Regions from separate parts of the Homo sapiens genome. Here region 1 is linked to region 2. The links come from fine-mapping of genetic effects on gene expression. A gene starts in region 2. The other region holds a variant in brackets. All regions are shown on one strand. Distances are between the middles of the regions.

Region 1 (8,333 bases), 160 kb after region 2:
AAAACCAGCAGAGAGATATGAGGTCACCTGCCCAAGGTCTCATAGCTAGGGAGGGACAGAGCTGAGATTTGAAGCGAGGTACAAGTCAGGCTAAAGACAGGAAGGGGGCTGGGGAAGGAGACCAGAGCCACTGCTCCCAGTACTTGGCAGGGGTCTGATTATCACCTGTGAGTCCCAAGAGCAGGGATCAGGCTCCCCTTGGGGCACACAACTATGGAGTGGGAGGGAAAGGGAAGCTGTATGGTTTCTCTGTGCCTCAGTTTCCTTCTCTGTAAAATGGGGCTAATTCTACCTTCCTGCTACCAAGATTAGAGACATCGCTTGGAAAAGGCTGTCTTTTCCTCTTCCCACACCTTCCACCCGCTCTTGCTTGTGGGCAGAGGATGAGGCAGCTTGCCCAACCCTCTGGGAGGTGGGCCCCGAAAAGGGCGGGACAAGGCAGCCAGGAGAGCTTCATTAAAGAGTGGAAAAGCAGAAGTGGCAGGGATTCCCAAGTCCCAGCGATTCCCCCACTTCCTCTCCACCTGCCACAGCTGCCAGCGACCGCCCGCCTGAAACCACTGCCATTTGGACAGCATGCCAGGCCACCCAGGAGCAGCTGAGCAACTTGTCAAGACCGGGTAGGTCTGGGGACTTTGGACACTGAGGGCTACAGGTGAGAAAACAGTCAGCCATTGGGGGTGATGGATATGAACCCAAATCTTCAGCTCTGCCATTCCTTGGCTATGTGACCTTAGGCAAATCCTCAGTTCTCTGTGAGCCTCAGTTCCCCATCTGTGAAATGGAAGTAATAATGACATCTACAAGACTGTTGCCAGAATTGAATGAGAAAACACATGCTTAGTACTTGGCACCTGCTTGGCTCAGAGGAAGCACTCACTAAACAGCAGCTAGTTTCCTTGCCATTTTCAATACCCCGTGCAGGAATTGTCATCCAATATGACTTAGGACTGGCTTTCAATCCTTAAAATTGTTTTTATTATTAGCTATTATTCCAAAAGCTACTGTGTTCCAAATATTAATTATATAGTAGAAGGGGGTGTTTAGTCCCAAATTCAAATGCCTTCGGGAGCTGGGAAGGGGTTGCACCTGTGGAAGGCCACCTGGGTGTGCAGACGGACCCGTTCATTGATCAGCAGGATGCAGTCTGCAGGGCTGCTCCCCTGTCAAAGGTGGGTAGTGGATACTCAGCTCCAGCTACCTGTTGCAAAGGTGGGAGCTCTAACCCAGATCTTCTTATCTCTCAAGAAAAGCTGGAAACCCAGATTTTAATGTGAAACTTCCTTATTTCCAAATGGGGGCAGCTTACACACACACACACACACACAGAGTGGGCCACAATAAGGCACATTTGCATATGATTCAGCCTTTAGGGCTTCAAGGTTGTGACCTTCACTCCAGCCCCACAGGCCTCACTGCATCTCAGCTTCCCACTGTTCTGGTTCTCCCAACTCCCTATTTCCCGATGGTCAGAGCACAGGACCTTTGCACACGCTGTTCCTTCTGTCAGGGATGTCCAACTCCCTTCTTCACCCACAAACTGACACTTGTCCTTCCACCCCCAGCTGGAATGTCACCTCTTCCAGGGAGCCTTCCTGACTCCCAGGTAAAACTGGGTCACTCTCCATCTATCCCACCCCAGTCCAGGCCCAGGCATACTATGCTCAGAATTCTTTGTTAATGAACTTAAACTCTAATGGTCTATTTAAGTCTCCTCAATTAGACTGTGAACTCCTTTAGTGGGACCAGGACTTAATTCATCTTTGTGTCCACAGGGGTCAGCACAGAGCCTGGGCACAGAGGAGACTCGAGTGAAACATTTACATCGTTGACATAAGTATCATCAGAGTAACAAGTGGTGCAGTTTTATAGGATCCCTCTTCTGTGCCAGACCCTGTGTAAACTTCTTTACATGGATTATTTCATTTTATTGTCCCAGAAGCCCTGTGACAAAGGTTTCTGTATTAGTCAGGACTCATTGAGTTGCAAGTGACAGATTGATCTTACACTGCCTGTAGAAAAACAGACATCTCCTAGTGTGTGGTCCGGCATAGATTTCGGCTTCAGGCATTTCTGGATCCAGGTCCTCCAACAAGGCCACTGGGACTCTCTGTCTGTTTCCTAACACTGTTTTCCTTGTGTTGCCTTCATCCCAGGCCGACTCATACTACATGGTGGTCCCCAAGGCTTGAGGCATCTTCCTACCAGCTTAGCTCTCAAGGCAACAAAGGGCAGTTTTTTTGTCGTTGCAGCAAAATCCTGAGGAAAGCTCTATTGGTCCATCTCCGGTCAGGTGCAATCCCTGCACCAGTCACGGTGGCCAGGGGATCAGAGGTACTTGGATCAACTAGACCCAGTCACATGCTTATCCTTCAAGCTGTTGATGGTGGAGCAAGTCAGCAGCTTTGCCTGTAACCAACACAGTGACAGCCTCCCCACCACCCTCCCTGCCCTTTATAACCATATTCCCGTATAACCTTTCTGCCTGCTCTCACTTAAGATAATGTATGATCTCCAACCTCAAGTGGGCCTCAGTGTTGCCCAGCACATATGTTATTGCCCCAGTTCGTTTGTTCTCCCACTTTCCTGGGCAACCATTTTGTACTTTCTTCTTCCTCTTCAAGCATCCATCACCTCCGCCAGCATCTTACCTTCTCTGCTGACCTTGCTTCCTGCCAACCTGAGCAAACAGAAGCAATCGGTCATGCTACTCTTAATGAATAGTTTTGGAGCACTCACAACATGGCAGACACTATTGTAGGCACTTGGGACATATCAGTGACCAAAACGGACAAAGTCCCTGCTCCGGTGGAGTTGACTCTAGTGGTAGGTAATAGCTGATGTGATACTTACCATGTGCCAGAAACAAAGTGACCCCAGGAGGTGCATACTTTTATTGCACCATTTTACAGATGAGACAGCTGAGACACAGAAAGGTTGTGATATGTACCCAAGTTCACATAGCTGGCAAGTGGTGGAGCAGAAATTTGAGCCCAGGCAGTCCAGAGGTCATGCCCTTAACATTACTCTGCTCTGCGTATATCAGAGGATACTTTTCACAGGTGCATACACGCTGCCTGTTCATTCGCCATCATCTGTACCTATTTCCTCTGCTTTCCCACCTGCTATTAAGGATGAACGACCCCTGCTCTATTCTAAGACCAGCCCCACCTTGCATGTTCTCAGTCTCACTCTCTGCCTCCACCCCTACAGGTGTCACTCCAGGGAGTCTCCCCTTTGTCAATGTCTCCCCTCTCGATGAGATCTCCCACCTGCAAACATGCTATAGATTTCCTCCCTTTACATGAATTCTCTTGGTCCAATTTCCCATAGCTACCAGCCACTGCTTCATCTCCCTGCTGTTTTAGTGTAGAAATTACCGGAAAGAGTTGTCTGTATCTGTGTTTCCTATTCTTCTCCTTCCCGTCTCTCCTGGACCCAGTCTAGTTGGATTTTGGCCCCAAAAGCCACCGAACTCTCCCTGCCAAGGTCAACAGTGACCTCTAAGCGGCTAATAGGCATTGCTCAGTCCTCATCATTCTTGACCTGTTGGCTGCATTTGACGTACTTGATCACTCCTTTCTCCTTGAAACATTTTGTTTATTTGGCTTCCTAAGCACCACATTGGTTTCTCAGTCTCTTTTGCTGGTTCCTCCTTATCTAAGAGCCCCTAACCTTGGAGC[G/A]CCTTGAGGCATGTCCTTGGATGTCTTTCCTCCCCAGTGACACACTCTCTTGAGGAATCTCATGGTGCACATGGCTTTAGGTAGGGATATAAAGTTGGGAGACATCTAATAATCAGACTCCCAATGTTATAACTCCAGCCTGACCTCCCCTCTGAATTCCTGACTTCTATTTCCAACCACGTCGTCAAAAGCTCCACGGAATGGCTCAACTGAATCTCAAATTTAAGAGTTCTGAACTGAATTCCTCCTCTCTCCCCCTCCACTCAAACCTGTTTTGACCACAGAGTTCTCATCTCAGGAAATGACACCTTGGTGCTTCCAGTTGCTCAGACACAAAAGCACCTCGTCATCCTTGACTCCCCTCTTTCTCTCACACCCCACAACCAATCAGCCTCTGCAAATCTTGTTGACTCTGCCAACAAAATGTGTTCAGAATCCAAGCTTTCCTTACTACTCCTCTGCCATCGCTCTTAACATAGTGCAAGCCCCACGAAGGTAGGGACTTCTGTTTTTTTCATTCCTGTTTCTCCAATGGTTAACACAAAGTCGTTGCTTGATAAACACTTGTTGAATGAATAAATATAAGGATGATAGAATATAAAAGTCCCTCACAGGCCAACTAGTTCACCCTCCTCACCCCTAAATTATAGAGGAGACCCTGAAGTTCAGAAAGAATAGAAGGTCCAGAATCATACAGCAAGCCACCAAGACTATTAATTCAAGTGAAATCGTTTCTCTTCTTCTCTCTCCTCTTACTCATTCTCTCTCTTTCACCTGTGCTTCTCGCTCCATGACTCTTTCATTCTCTTGGGCCAGTTGCCTTCACAAAACTGTAATAATGGACTCAAACAGGGCAGACTTTCATCCTCACATCCTCAGGTACTGCATGGGAATTGGGCTCTTCCCTGACAGTTCCAGCGAGAGTAATCCTGGGGAAGGCTCTGATTGGTTCAGCTTGTGTCACGTGGGTATACAGTGACTTACTCTGATTGGTCCACCTGGGTAACTACAAGGGTGGAGTCTGTTAGCAGAGCCTGGTGATGGGTATGTGGGGCAGGGGCAGTGGACAGACACCCACCCACCCACCTCCTGATAGAGATGCCCTTCAATTTCCTTGTGTGCAGGTGGAGGTCCTGGCACTTGGGGTTCTGGAAGGCCCTTGCCCCACTGCAGGCTGCCTGGGACGCCTTCTCCCAGCCTGTTCCAGCCAGCTGTGGCCAGCTGCTGACCCAGCTCCTCCTGTGTGCCTCCCTGGCTGCTGCTGCTGCAGGTCTGGTTTATCACTGGCTGGCATCCTTGCTGCTTTATCCTCCTGGACCTTCAGCCATGGTTGCCACTGTCTGTGGCCTCCTGGTCTTCCTGAGCCTGGGCCTGGTACCCCCAGTCCGCTGCCTGTTTGCACTCAGCGTGCCCACCCTGGGTATGGAGCAGGGCCGCCGGCTGCTCCTGTCCTACAGCACTGCCACCCTGGCCATTGCTGTGGTGCCCAACGTCCTGGCCAACGTGGGTGCGGCCGGGCAGGTGCTGAGGTGTGTCACCGAGGGCTCCCTGGAGAGTCTCCTCAATACCACTCACCAGCTGCATGCAGCATCCAGGGCTCTGGGCCCCACAGGCCAGGCAGGCAGCCGGGGCCTGACATTTGAGGCCCAGGACAATGGCTCTGCCTTCTACCTTCACATGCTCAGGGTCACTCAGCAGGTCCTGGAGGATTTCTCTGGCCTGGAGTCCCTGGCCCGGGCAGCAGCGCTAGGGACCCAGCGAGTGGTCACAGGGCTGTTTATGTTGGGCCTCCTGGTGGAGTCGGCATGGTACCTCCATTGCTACCTGACAGACCTGCGGTTTGACAATATCTACGCCACTCAACAGCTGACCCAGCGGTTGGCACAGGCCCAGGCTACACACCTCCTGGCCCCTCCACCCACCTGGCTGCTCCAGGCGGCTCAGCTGAGGCTGTCACAGGAGGAGCTGTTGAGTTGTCTTCTAAGGCTGGGGCTGCTTGCCCTGCTCCTCGTGGCCACGGCTGTGGCGGTGGCCACAGACCATGTAGCCTTCCTCCTGGCACAGGCTACTGTGGACTGGGCTCAGAAGTTGCCAACTGTGCCCATCACGCTCACGGTCAAGTATGATGTAAGTGTGATGATGGGAAAAGGGAAGGGAGTCATTGTTTTGAGGGCAGGGGGAGAATCTGTTAAACCCTTGACTTGTGATGAAATTTGACTTGCCTCCAAGAAACAGCCCTTGAATCATCCATGGGGCCCCATACCATGGGCAGAGGGACTCATCGGATACCCACAACAGCTCTAGGAAGTGGTTTCTATTTTCACTTCCTATTGCAGTTGAGGATGCTGAAACCCAGACACCTTAAAATAACTTGCATCCAAGGTCACCCTTCACAAGTGGCAGCTTGTCCTAGCCTCATTTTCCACATTTGTACAAATTGAATCGATCCTCCTAATCCTAAAAGGCTATTGTGTCTTACAATGTGGTATTGTCTTAAAGTACCTAGTAAGCTCCATGGCACATAAGAGATTATTTAATAAAGAGTGGCTATTATTAATAGCTTACATCTGTCTATGTCAGACTGGAGGAGGACTTTGGAATGGCCTTGATCAGGAGGCATCCAACTATAGCCTTCAGGACAAATCCAATGGCTTCTTGGTTTTGTAAATAAAGCTTTTTTAGAACACAGCCATGCCATTTGTCAATATATTGTCTGTGGCTGCCCTACAAAGGCAAAGTTGAGTAATTGCAACAGAGACTGTATGTCCTGCAAAGCCTGAAATATTTGCTATTTTAATAGTGATATAGAAAATATTTACTATCGACTTATAATCGGATATATTACTATCAGATCAAGAGTTGTGTTTTTCGATCCTTTCTTTTGCCACGGATCTTTTTATTTTTAATTTTTAGTAGTGAGGTCTCACACAAAAGTCCATTGCATAAAACATATCAAAGTGTCAAACTTCGAGCTAATAATATTAACAGTTTATATTTATCAAGTACTTATTACATATTAAGAAAGTGCTTTTCAGACTGCACAAAATCAATTTAATCAATTTAAGGAGTCATAAATAGTGTTTTTAATGAAATAGAATCAACTGGAAAATTATAAGATTACATCTTAGGCAATAAGGGAGTGTATGGTTTTTGAATATTTTCTTCAATTACAAAACAATCTCTGCTTTGAAGGTACTGTAAAATGCATTTCTTTTCTTTCCTTTTTTGAGACAGGGTTTCACTCTGTTGCCCATGCCAGAATGCAGTGGTGCAGTGGTGCAATCACAGCTCACTGTAACCTTGACCTCCTGGCTCAAACGAGCCTCCCACTTCACCTACCTCTGCCTTCCAAGTAGCTGAGACTACAGGCATGCACCACCACCACCCAGTTAATTTTTAATATTTTTTTTAGAGATGGTGTCCCACTATGTGGCTCAGGCTGGTCTCAGACTCCTGGGCTCAAGCATTCCTCTCACCTCAGCCTCCCAAAGTGTTGGGATTACAGGCATAAGCCACCATGCCTGGCCTGTAAAATGCATTTCTTACCATAGGTCACAGTAAAGAAATGTGTCAGGCAATGTTCTAAGCATGTTCCCTGATTTACTCATTTTCACCAAATCTCAGATAGTCATCAATTGCAAGTCACACCATTACTTTATGTATCCTTAGGGCAGAAAATGCTACCAATTCAACCTTGACACAATGCTTTCTTATCATTTAGAATTTTTATTGTATTTGTATAAAATAGTTCACTTATTATTTAACATAGGTTTATTTTGCCATATCTTTCTCGCGTATACATAAAAAGAAAAATAGGGGGCTGGGCATGGAGGCTCATGCCTATCTATAATCCCAGCACTTTGGGAGGCCGAGGTGGGTGGATCACCTGAGGTCAGGAGTTCAAGACCAGCCTGGCCAACAACATGGTGAAACCCCATCTCTACTGAAAATACAAAAATTAGCCAGGCATGGTGGTGTGTGCCTGTAATCCCAGCTACTCAGGAGGCTGAGGTGAGATAATCGCTTGAACCTGGGAGGCAAAGTTTGCAGTGAATTGAGATTGCTCCACTGCACTCCAACCTGAGCCAGCAAGACTCCAAAAAAAAAAAAAGGAAGAAACGAAGAAAGAAAGAAAGAAAGAAAGAAAGGAAAGAGAAAGAGAGAAAGAAAGAGAAAGAGAGAAAGAAAAGAAAGAAGGAAAGAAAGAAAGAAAGAAAGAAAAAGAAAGGAAGGAAGGAAGAAAGAAAAAAGGAAGGAATGAGAGAGAGAGGGAGGGACGAAGGAAGGAAGGGAGGAAGGAAGGAAGGGAGGGAGGGGAAGTAATCTGATGGTTTTCCTAAAACATTCAATCTGACTTTTCTGAATGACTCTGGCCGAGGAGTCAGTCTCTGAGGCTTTTCCTCCAATATCATTCTCTGTGCCTTCCAGAGCCCCGGTGATGCCCCACCATTGTTTCCAGCATTTTCTTGCAAGCTGCGGGCCCTCACTCAGCAAGTTTTGAGGCTGGCACTCTCTGATCCTCTGGGAAAGCATAAATTGTACAGGCCCACTCATTGCTTTCACATTATTTCATCTTTTCTGAAAGCTTTGGGAGTTTCTCCTGCATTCATTTGAACCATTTGGGGTGTGGCAAGCTATCCTTCTGCACCT
Region 2 (8,333 bases):
TTAGTGCCTTTCAGTGGAAAAGTTTGAGGGAGTTCCTGACCAATTCCCATGCATCTTCCTCAACTCTCCACTGTACTCTTTTTCCTTCACACTGCAAGTTCCTTTATGAGTCTTCCATATTCAACTAAGGAGGGCAGGGATAGAGACTGACTCGTCCTGAGCCTCCGGGGCCCCAGCCCTGCCCTGACACCCAAGAGGAACCCAGTGAAGTTTCTGCTGAATGAACAAATGACTGGGTAGAGGACCAGGGCTATTTCACCTCATGACATTTCTAGGGCTGTGTCAGATACCTCTGAACCTAAACTAATTCTACACAGCAGCCAGAAGGATTCTGGGAAAACCTAAGTCAGGCCTCGTCACTCTTCCACTAGGAGCCCTCCAAGGCTCCTATTTCAGTCTAAGAAAAGCCAACGTCCTCACCGTGGCCTTCAAGACTCTGCAGGATCTGCCCCCTCTCACTGGGCTCCAGTCACACTGGTTCCTTGCTGCTACTCTCACTCCAAGCACGTCCCAACTCAAAGCTTGGTACCTGCCAGCCTCTCTGCCTGGGAAGTCCTGTCCCTCCATGCCAACAGTTCCTTCCTTCCTCCCTTCTGATCTTTGCTGAAACATCCCCTTCTCGGTGAGGCTGTCCCTGGCCTTCTACCTAAAATTCAACCTCCCTGTAGCATCTAGCACTTTGTATTCCCTTCTCCACTTGTTTTTTCTGCGTGGCACTTCTCATCTTCCAAAATAACTACATATTTTACATATTTATTGGTCTCCCTGACCTGAAAGTCAGCCTCAAGGGAACAGGAGTGGTTTGTTTCTTCTCAGCTGTCTCCCTGAGGCCAAGGACAGTTACTCAGCACTCAATCAATAATATTTGTTAAACAAATGAATGATTGAGTGAATGAATGAAAAACCAAATGAACTGTGGGGATGTAGGAAATCCAGAAAGAAAGGATCTTGGCTCATGAACATCTGAAAGGTCCAGGGCCTGGAAGTGGCCATGGACAGGAAGCAGAGCAAAGCCTCGTCCTCAAATTAAGATGTCTTAGGCTGGGCTCGGTGGCTCATGCCTATAATCCCAATACTTTGGGAGGCTAAGGCAAGTGGATCACTTGAGTTCATGAGTTCAAGATCAGCCTGGGTAACACGGTGAAACCCCATCTCTACCAAAAAATACAAAAATGAGCCAGGAATAGTGGTGTGCACCTGTAATTCCAGCTACTTGGGAGGCTGAGGTGGGAGGATGGCTTGAGCCTGGGAGGCAGAGGTTGCAGTGAGCCGAGACTGTACCACTGCACTCTAGCCTAGATGACAGAGCCAGACTTTGTCAAAAAAAAAAAAAAAAAAAAAAGAAAGAAAGAAGACAGAAAGAAAGAAAGAGAAAAAAAGAAAAGAAAGAAAATTAAGGAGAACACATTAAGACGGCTTGACCTAAGTTTAGCAAGTGTGCATCCTTTCTATTAATAACCTGCCTAACATAGGCTGTAGTGAAGATGTCCCACACTGGAGGAAATCCCTTAATCCTCTAAGCCCCTCGCTGTGGAGGGCACAGCTTCCCCGGGACAGGGTCAGGGGGCAGGGGGAGGGGGGAGAACCCTGGTTTGGGATGCAAGTATCTCCAGCTGCAAGTCCTAGGCCTCCCGTTGGTGACACTAGAGTAGTGTCTCAACCAGAGGTCACAGAGCACTGGGTCCCTCCTGCACCAGAGACCTGCTGTGGCTTTCCCTGAAGCTCCAGGGAGAAGCCAGATGTGAAATTGAACTGTATGAATATCCTCTTGCAGATGGCCGGCTTCCAAATGTCCCAGCAATTGCAGCCACAGCTGATACTTGGAGTACCCACTATAGCCAGCCACTCTCCTAAGGGGCAGTATCTGTACCAGCTGGCTTAATCCCTAGACAATCCTATGACAATCACTATTGTCATTCCCATTTTACAGAAATAACCACCACACTGAGAGGTGAAGACATTTCCCCAAGGTGGCACAGTTTGTAAGTCACATAGCAGGAACTTGAACTCGGGCAGTCTGACTCCAGAATCCCAATATTGGGTGCAATATAAAATAAAAACTCACATTCACTCACCATTTACCAGATATAGGTGATGAGCCGAGCACTGTAATTCATTTTTTCACATCATTCTCATGGCTACCCTGTGATAAGGGTATTTGATAGTGACCAGAGAAGTTGGCAGACTCTCCCAGGTCAAAGTGGAATGGTGGAACAAAGTGAGAGGAATTGGGTCTAGAACCCAGTTCTGCCCCCAGAGGCTATAAAGAGAGCCCAATCCCTGGTCCCTGCTGTGTAAGAATTCTGGGGAGGACAGAGACCCGCAGCCATGACTTATGCCTCCCCCAGCACTAACACCCAGCCCTCGCTCTGCCCATAGAAGGCACTCAGCAAATGGCTGTTGGGTTGATTTAGCAGGAATAGGAGGTGCAGGAACAAGGGGCTAGGGCTAAGCTGAGTGTCCTTAAGAAGACCTTGACCTCTCTGGGCCTCATTTTTTTCTCAGGCTCTGGGGCACTGTGCTGTGGGGGTTAAGAGGATGGACTCTCCTGTCAGAGCCGGAACTGGTCACCAGTTTTACCATTAATCCACCATGACAGGCCACGTGGTGCAGTGGTTAGGAATGCAGACTGGAGTCAGAATGCTGGGGCTCCTTCCCAGCTTCTCCTCTCCATAGCTGTGTGACCTTGGGGAACTCACCTCACCTCTCTGGGCTTCCCCATCTACAAATGGGATATTAATGCCTACCTTCTATGCTTACCTACATCATAGCCAGTGTTAGCGACTGTGATTCTCCACAGAACGACTCAGAGCAAACTTTGAGAAGTTAATTCAGGGCCGGGCGCGGAGGCTCACGCCTGTAATCCCAAGCCGAGGCAGCCGGATCACGAGGTCAGGAGATCAAGACATCCTGGCCAACATGGTGAAACCCACTCTCTACTAAAAATACAAAAATTAGCTGGGCGTGGTGGTGTATGCCTGTAATCCCAGCTACTTGGGAGGCTGAGGCAGGAGAATTGCTTGAACCAGGGAGCTGGAGGTTGCAGTGAGCGGGATCACGCCACTGCACTCCAGCCTGGCGACAGAGTGATCATCTCAAAAAAAAGAAAAAAAAAAGAAAAGATAATTCAGGTCACGGCCCCGCTCCAGCTTAAAACCCTTCTCCAGCTTGCCGTGGCATTTGCAATAAAATCTGAACTTCTCACCACGGCTTACAAAGCCCTGCACACCTCTCTGCCATCCCTTTGACCTCAGTGCCCTGCCCGCTGTGCTCTGGCCATCCTGGCCTGGGCCACACAAACTCATTCCTGCCTGAGGGCCTTTGCACTGTTGCTGCCACCTGGAAGCTCTTTCTCCAGATCTCAGCAAGACCCGCTTCTGAGGAAGTTCTCAGCTCCAAAACGTCCTACTCCAGAAAACCCACCCTGACCACCTACCCAAGGAACCCACGCCCTTGGCCTTCACGCCACCCCATTTTATGGGTTCCACAACACCTTATCTCTCTCTGAAGTTATTCATAAACGTGTTTACCCAGCTGCTCAATCAGAATGCCACCTCCATGAGAGAGAGGTTTATTGTCTATTTTGTTCATTGCTGAAGCTCTAACCCCTATATCAATGTCTGGCACGTAGTAGGTGCTCACTCAAGAATCAACGACTGATCCTTCGAGGCTTCTGAATGCAGAGAGAAAAATAGAGCCCTAGTCCCGAGTGGCAACAAAGCCATTCCCCACGCGTCCCACCCCAATGCTGTGTTAGAATCTCCTTCTCTGTCCCCTCTCTGCAGAATCACGTCCAGAGGAGGGGGTTCGTCTGTTTTGTTCGCAGTTTCGTTCGCGACAGCGTCCCCAGGCCCACAACAGCGCCTGGGGCACAACCGCGCTCAGCGAATCGATGAACTGCTTTGCTTCTTTCGGAGCCTCCATTTCTTCATCTGCAGACCAGGAACAGCTGCACTTGCCTGGGGCTGTCGGATCAGGGCGCCCGGGAGAGTGCCTGGGCCCGAGTGGGCGCTGCAGCAAGTGAGGGGCCACTTTTCCGGGGCAGAAAGGAAGATGGAAGGAAGCGCGACCGAGCCCCGTCCCAGCCCCCGCCGCAGGCCTGCAGTCTCGGGCTGGCCACCCGAGAGGCGGTATCCGGCCGGGGCGGCCCTGGGGGAGCCAGGGGGCGCGCACTCTTAGGGGAGCGTGGGGGCGGTGTCTACACCCTGGGAAGGGGTCGGGCTTCCAGCAGGCAGCGCCCGATCGGGACTTACCCATGGCGAGCGGGACTCGGCGGCGTGCTGGGGGCGCTGAGGGGCCGGGCGCGCATCCCCCGCCGGAGTCCCCAACGCCGCTGCCGCCGGACAAACTTTCCGGCCCGCCCCCGCCTCTGTCCCTCCTGCCCTGCCCTCCCGCGCGCAGCGCCGCCAACGCCACGTCGGCCAGCCAGGCCCCGAGGCCTGGAGGCGGGACGGAGGGGAGCCCAGGACCGCCCCCGGCCGCCCCAGGCCTGGCAAGGACCCCCTCCCTCGCCCACTGTCCTCCCGGGGGCCCCCACCCGCCATCTCCCGGGTCCCCTTCGTTGGTAGTCCTCCCCTGGGGGGGACACACCAGCAAGCCATCCTCCCTGGTAGAAGACCCCACACGCACTGTCTTCCCCTGGCCTCTTTGCAGGGAAGAGGTGCCCCAATCACTGGTCCACACTTGTCTGGCCTCCCCAGCGTGCGCACACACACAACACACACAACACACACATCTACACCGAGTGAGACACTCGCGCATACCCACTGGAGCCGCTCACTCTCTCATGGATTCATCCCTCATTCACTCCACGCTTGGGTTTGGACACCACCACATACCAGGCACTACGCTAGGCTTGGGATGGGCCGAAGAACAAAACAGAACAGGTCTTTTGTTTACCTTCTAGGAGGGGAAGAGTTTACATTCTAGGAGGGGAAGACGAAAAAGAAGTAACTAAAGGATCCTGAGAAATATCAGCTAGTGATAAAGACTAGGCAGAAAGTTAAACTACGGTGGTGGGTTAGGCAGACACAGGTGGCTGCTTTAGCTTGCTGATCTGAGAAGAGGATATCTGAGCAGAGATCCGGCATTCCCCGCAGGGGGAACAGCAAAGGCAAAGGCCCCGGGGTGGGAAGGAGCTTATGGGGTACAAAAAACGCAGAAATGAAGCCAGAGTGTCTGGAGCAGAGGAGAAGACAGGGAGAGAGGAGGGAGATGGGAGCTAAGGGAGGGGCTTTGGTGGGCCAGGGTCAGGAATGTAGATTTCAACCCCATCAGCAGGACAGATAACTGGGGAGTTCTAACTGGTTAAGGGCCAGAATACTCAGCCTTCCCACCTGGGAGGCTGTTGCAAGGTGAGAAGTTGGTTTGGGCTCATGTCACTGTGGTGAGGTTGGAGAAAAGTAGGCAGATCACATATATATGCTCCGTAAGAACTTACAGACTGGAAGAGGGGCAGCTTGTGGCTGGGAAAGGAGATCCAGAGTTCTGTCTTGGCTGTGTGACATTTGAGGTGCTCAGCAGGCATCCACGTGGAAATAGGTGGGCAGTTGGCTATGAGCCTGGGATTCAGGAAAGGGGTAGGCTGGGGACACTGCCACTAATGCTCACTCAGGCAAAAATGCACGTACAAGCCCAGCACTCACATGGGCGCAGCCTTATCCAGCCTCTCAATACGTGTTCACAGATAGGCACCTTTGCATGTGCACCAGTGGCTGTACCCTCACCAGTCAAAGTCACAGCGACCCCTACCGTACAGGTGGATACACAGGCATTCTTCCATGCTGAAGGCACAAGCAGGTATCTCAGCAAAGATGACAGCATCCATAAGACCTCTGAACCAGGGGATCCTTGCACAGTTTCAAAAATAATAATAGCTGGGGCAGTTTGAAAACATGGCTCCAGAATTCGTTGTTCCTTCCCTTGAAATAAAAGTGGGCTTGTGACTGGTTTGATCAGTAGCCTGCAGAGTGACACTGTGTAACTTCTGAGGCTGGGTCACTGGAATACTGGTGCCTGGATCCCTGAGCCTTCATATAAAAAGTCTGATTACACTGAGACCCTCCTGGTATTCGTGGCCTAGTGGCATCCTCTTCTCTTCTAGATGTCACTAGAAGTATCACTTAGCAACGTCTAATGAATAGAAGACGGCAAATATGGTGGATGTCATTTTCGGATTAGGTTATAAATGATTTCTGTGTTGTTCAGTTTCGAGATCTCTCACTTGTTTGCTCTGATGAAGCAATTGAGCTGCCATGTTTTGAGCTTCCCAATGGAGAGGCCCACATGGAGCGAAGCTATTGAATCACATAGCTAATGCCTCCAGGCAATAACCAGTGAGGGACTAAAGCCCTTAAATCAACAGCCCCTAAGGAGCTAAATCTGGCCAACAAGCTTGTGGTGAGCTTGGACGTGAATCTTCCCTCAGCCTAGCCTGGAGGTGACTCTAGTCCTGGCTGACACCTTGATTTCAACCTTGCAAGATTCTGAGCTCTTGCTCAGAGCTAGAATTTAGCTATGCTAAATTCTTTATCCTAGAAGACATGAGATAATAAATGTTTGTTTCTTTAAGCCACTAAATTTGGGGAATAATTTGTTATACAGTGATAAATAACGAATACACATTTCATTATTGTTCATTATCTTGATTAGAAAAAGGAGATGGATCATCTCCAGGAGAAAGTAGAGATTAGGTTATATCTACATGGACACTAGGAGGCTTATCACCCTTGGCCTTGAATCTCTCCTCTGACCCTTGAACAGTTAACCATCAGAAGCTGAGAAATCGGTGAGGATGGTATCTAACTTTAATTTAATGTGATCTTAAGGGACTGAAAATGCCTTTGCAAAGATTAGAGAGCAAGAGAAATCTGGCATGGTTGACTCCATCTTGACTCTGACCTCACCGGCTACCTGTCTTTGCTTATTTCTGGGTATAGGCCAAGCCAACCACGAGAGGAGTTTAGTTTATATTTTAACTTTGAAGCAAGGATGATAATAATCACTCCCTAAAACTAACCCCCTCCTTGCTCAGGGACTGAAGCTACCTTTGTAAAATTAATGAAAGTCCATGAGGTTAGGATTATGGGATGGGCCTGAATTATGCTAAAATGCAGGTGTAGTTTTGGTAATTCCTTACTGCTCAGGAGTCATGTGGCCAGAGGTCACAAGATTTGTAATTTCCCCAATTGCTCCTGTAGATAACATCACTATTGTAGAACCTAAGATTCATCTTTTGAGATGTTTTTCATACTTTCACATCCTGGCAACCAACTGACCCCGCCTGGACTAAAGATTCATGAGTGGACTGGTCCTGTGGCTCCCATCTAGAGGCAGACTCAGTGCACGGGGCTGTTTTCCATATCTCGATGATTTCACCCCCCCAACCAATCAGCAGCACCCATTCCCTATCCCCCTGCTCACCAAAGTATTTATAAAAACCCTGGTTTCTGAAGTTTTCAGAAAGACTGATTTGAGGAATAACTCCACCTAGCCCACTTGGCTAGCTCTGCATTAATAAAACTCTTTCTCTACTGCAATACTGCAGTCTCAGTGAACTGGTTTTGTCTGTGCAGCGAGCAGGAAGAACCCATTCAGCAATTATAGGACTTTGCTGAAAAGCCCTTCTCACCAATGTCTGTCTCTTAAGTGTTGTAAACCTCTCACTCACTATTTTAAAAGCCTATTCATTAGCTTGGGGTCCATCATGGAAAAAGGAGTTTCTCTGATTTAAAAAAAAAATTCCCTTAAAAAGCCACTTTAATAAACTTCCTTTTATAGATGGCCTCAGAACCCAAGTTGATTTCTTGGGGAGTGACACAGAATTTAGATAAAATACAGGATAAAATACAGGATGCCCAGTTAAATGTGAATTTCAGATAAACATGGGACATAATTTTACTACAAAATTATTTGATGTCTATCTGAAATTCGCGTTTAACTGGGCATACTATTTGTTGCTGTTTTTGCTAAATCTGGCAACCTTACCAGCCATTGTTTTGGACTAAGCTCCTGCACTAGTCCCCAACAGAACAGACTGAAAATCAAAATGGAGTCACCCATGCTAGAGTTCCAGGTCACTGAACCTAAGCTAAGTTGTTATCTGACCTTTCCAGAAATCAGGAGAGAGACAAGCAGCCAGCTTAAATCTTCAATCAGTGTGATGATGAAGTTCCCTCTGCTTTCATCCTTACACAAAAAAGGTAGCCTGAAGTAACCTGATGTTAACCAGTTATTTTTCTATTGCTCTAAAGTAACTAATATACTTTTTGTTCTTTGTTTCTGCTTTCTTCAGTCCTTCTCTGTCTTTATAAAGCCAACCTCTGCTTCTCAGC

Evidence for each region. PIP is the estimated chance that this variant, and not a neighbour inherited with it, causes the effect. A credible set is the group of variants that fine-mapping cannot tell apart.
Region 1: its variant is the best candidate, but not a certain one, in a credible set for the expression of SLC2A10 in adrenal gland (GTEx, PIP 0.86).

Annotation. Positions count from the first base shown.
Region 1 is chr20:46,542,804-46,551,136 of GRCh38, reverse strand. OCSTAMP (osteoclast stimulatory transmembrane protein) reads left to right here and starts at 483. Exons shown (of 3, transcript NM_080721.3): 1 at 483-620; 2 at 4,808-5,810. The coding sequence starts at 577. RefSeq lists enhancers at 6,050-6,119, 5,326-6,177. The variant G/A (reference allele first, on the strand shown) is at 3,684.
Region 2 is chr20:46,705,661-46,713,993 of GRCh38, reverse strand. SLC2A10 (solute carrier family 2 member 10) reads right to left here and starts at 4,345. Exons shown (of 5, transcript NM_030777.4): 1 at 4,254-4,345. The coding sequence starts at 4,257.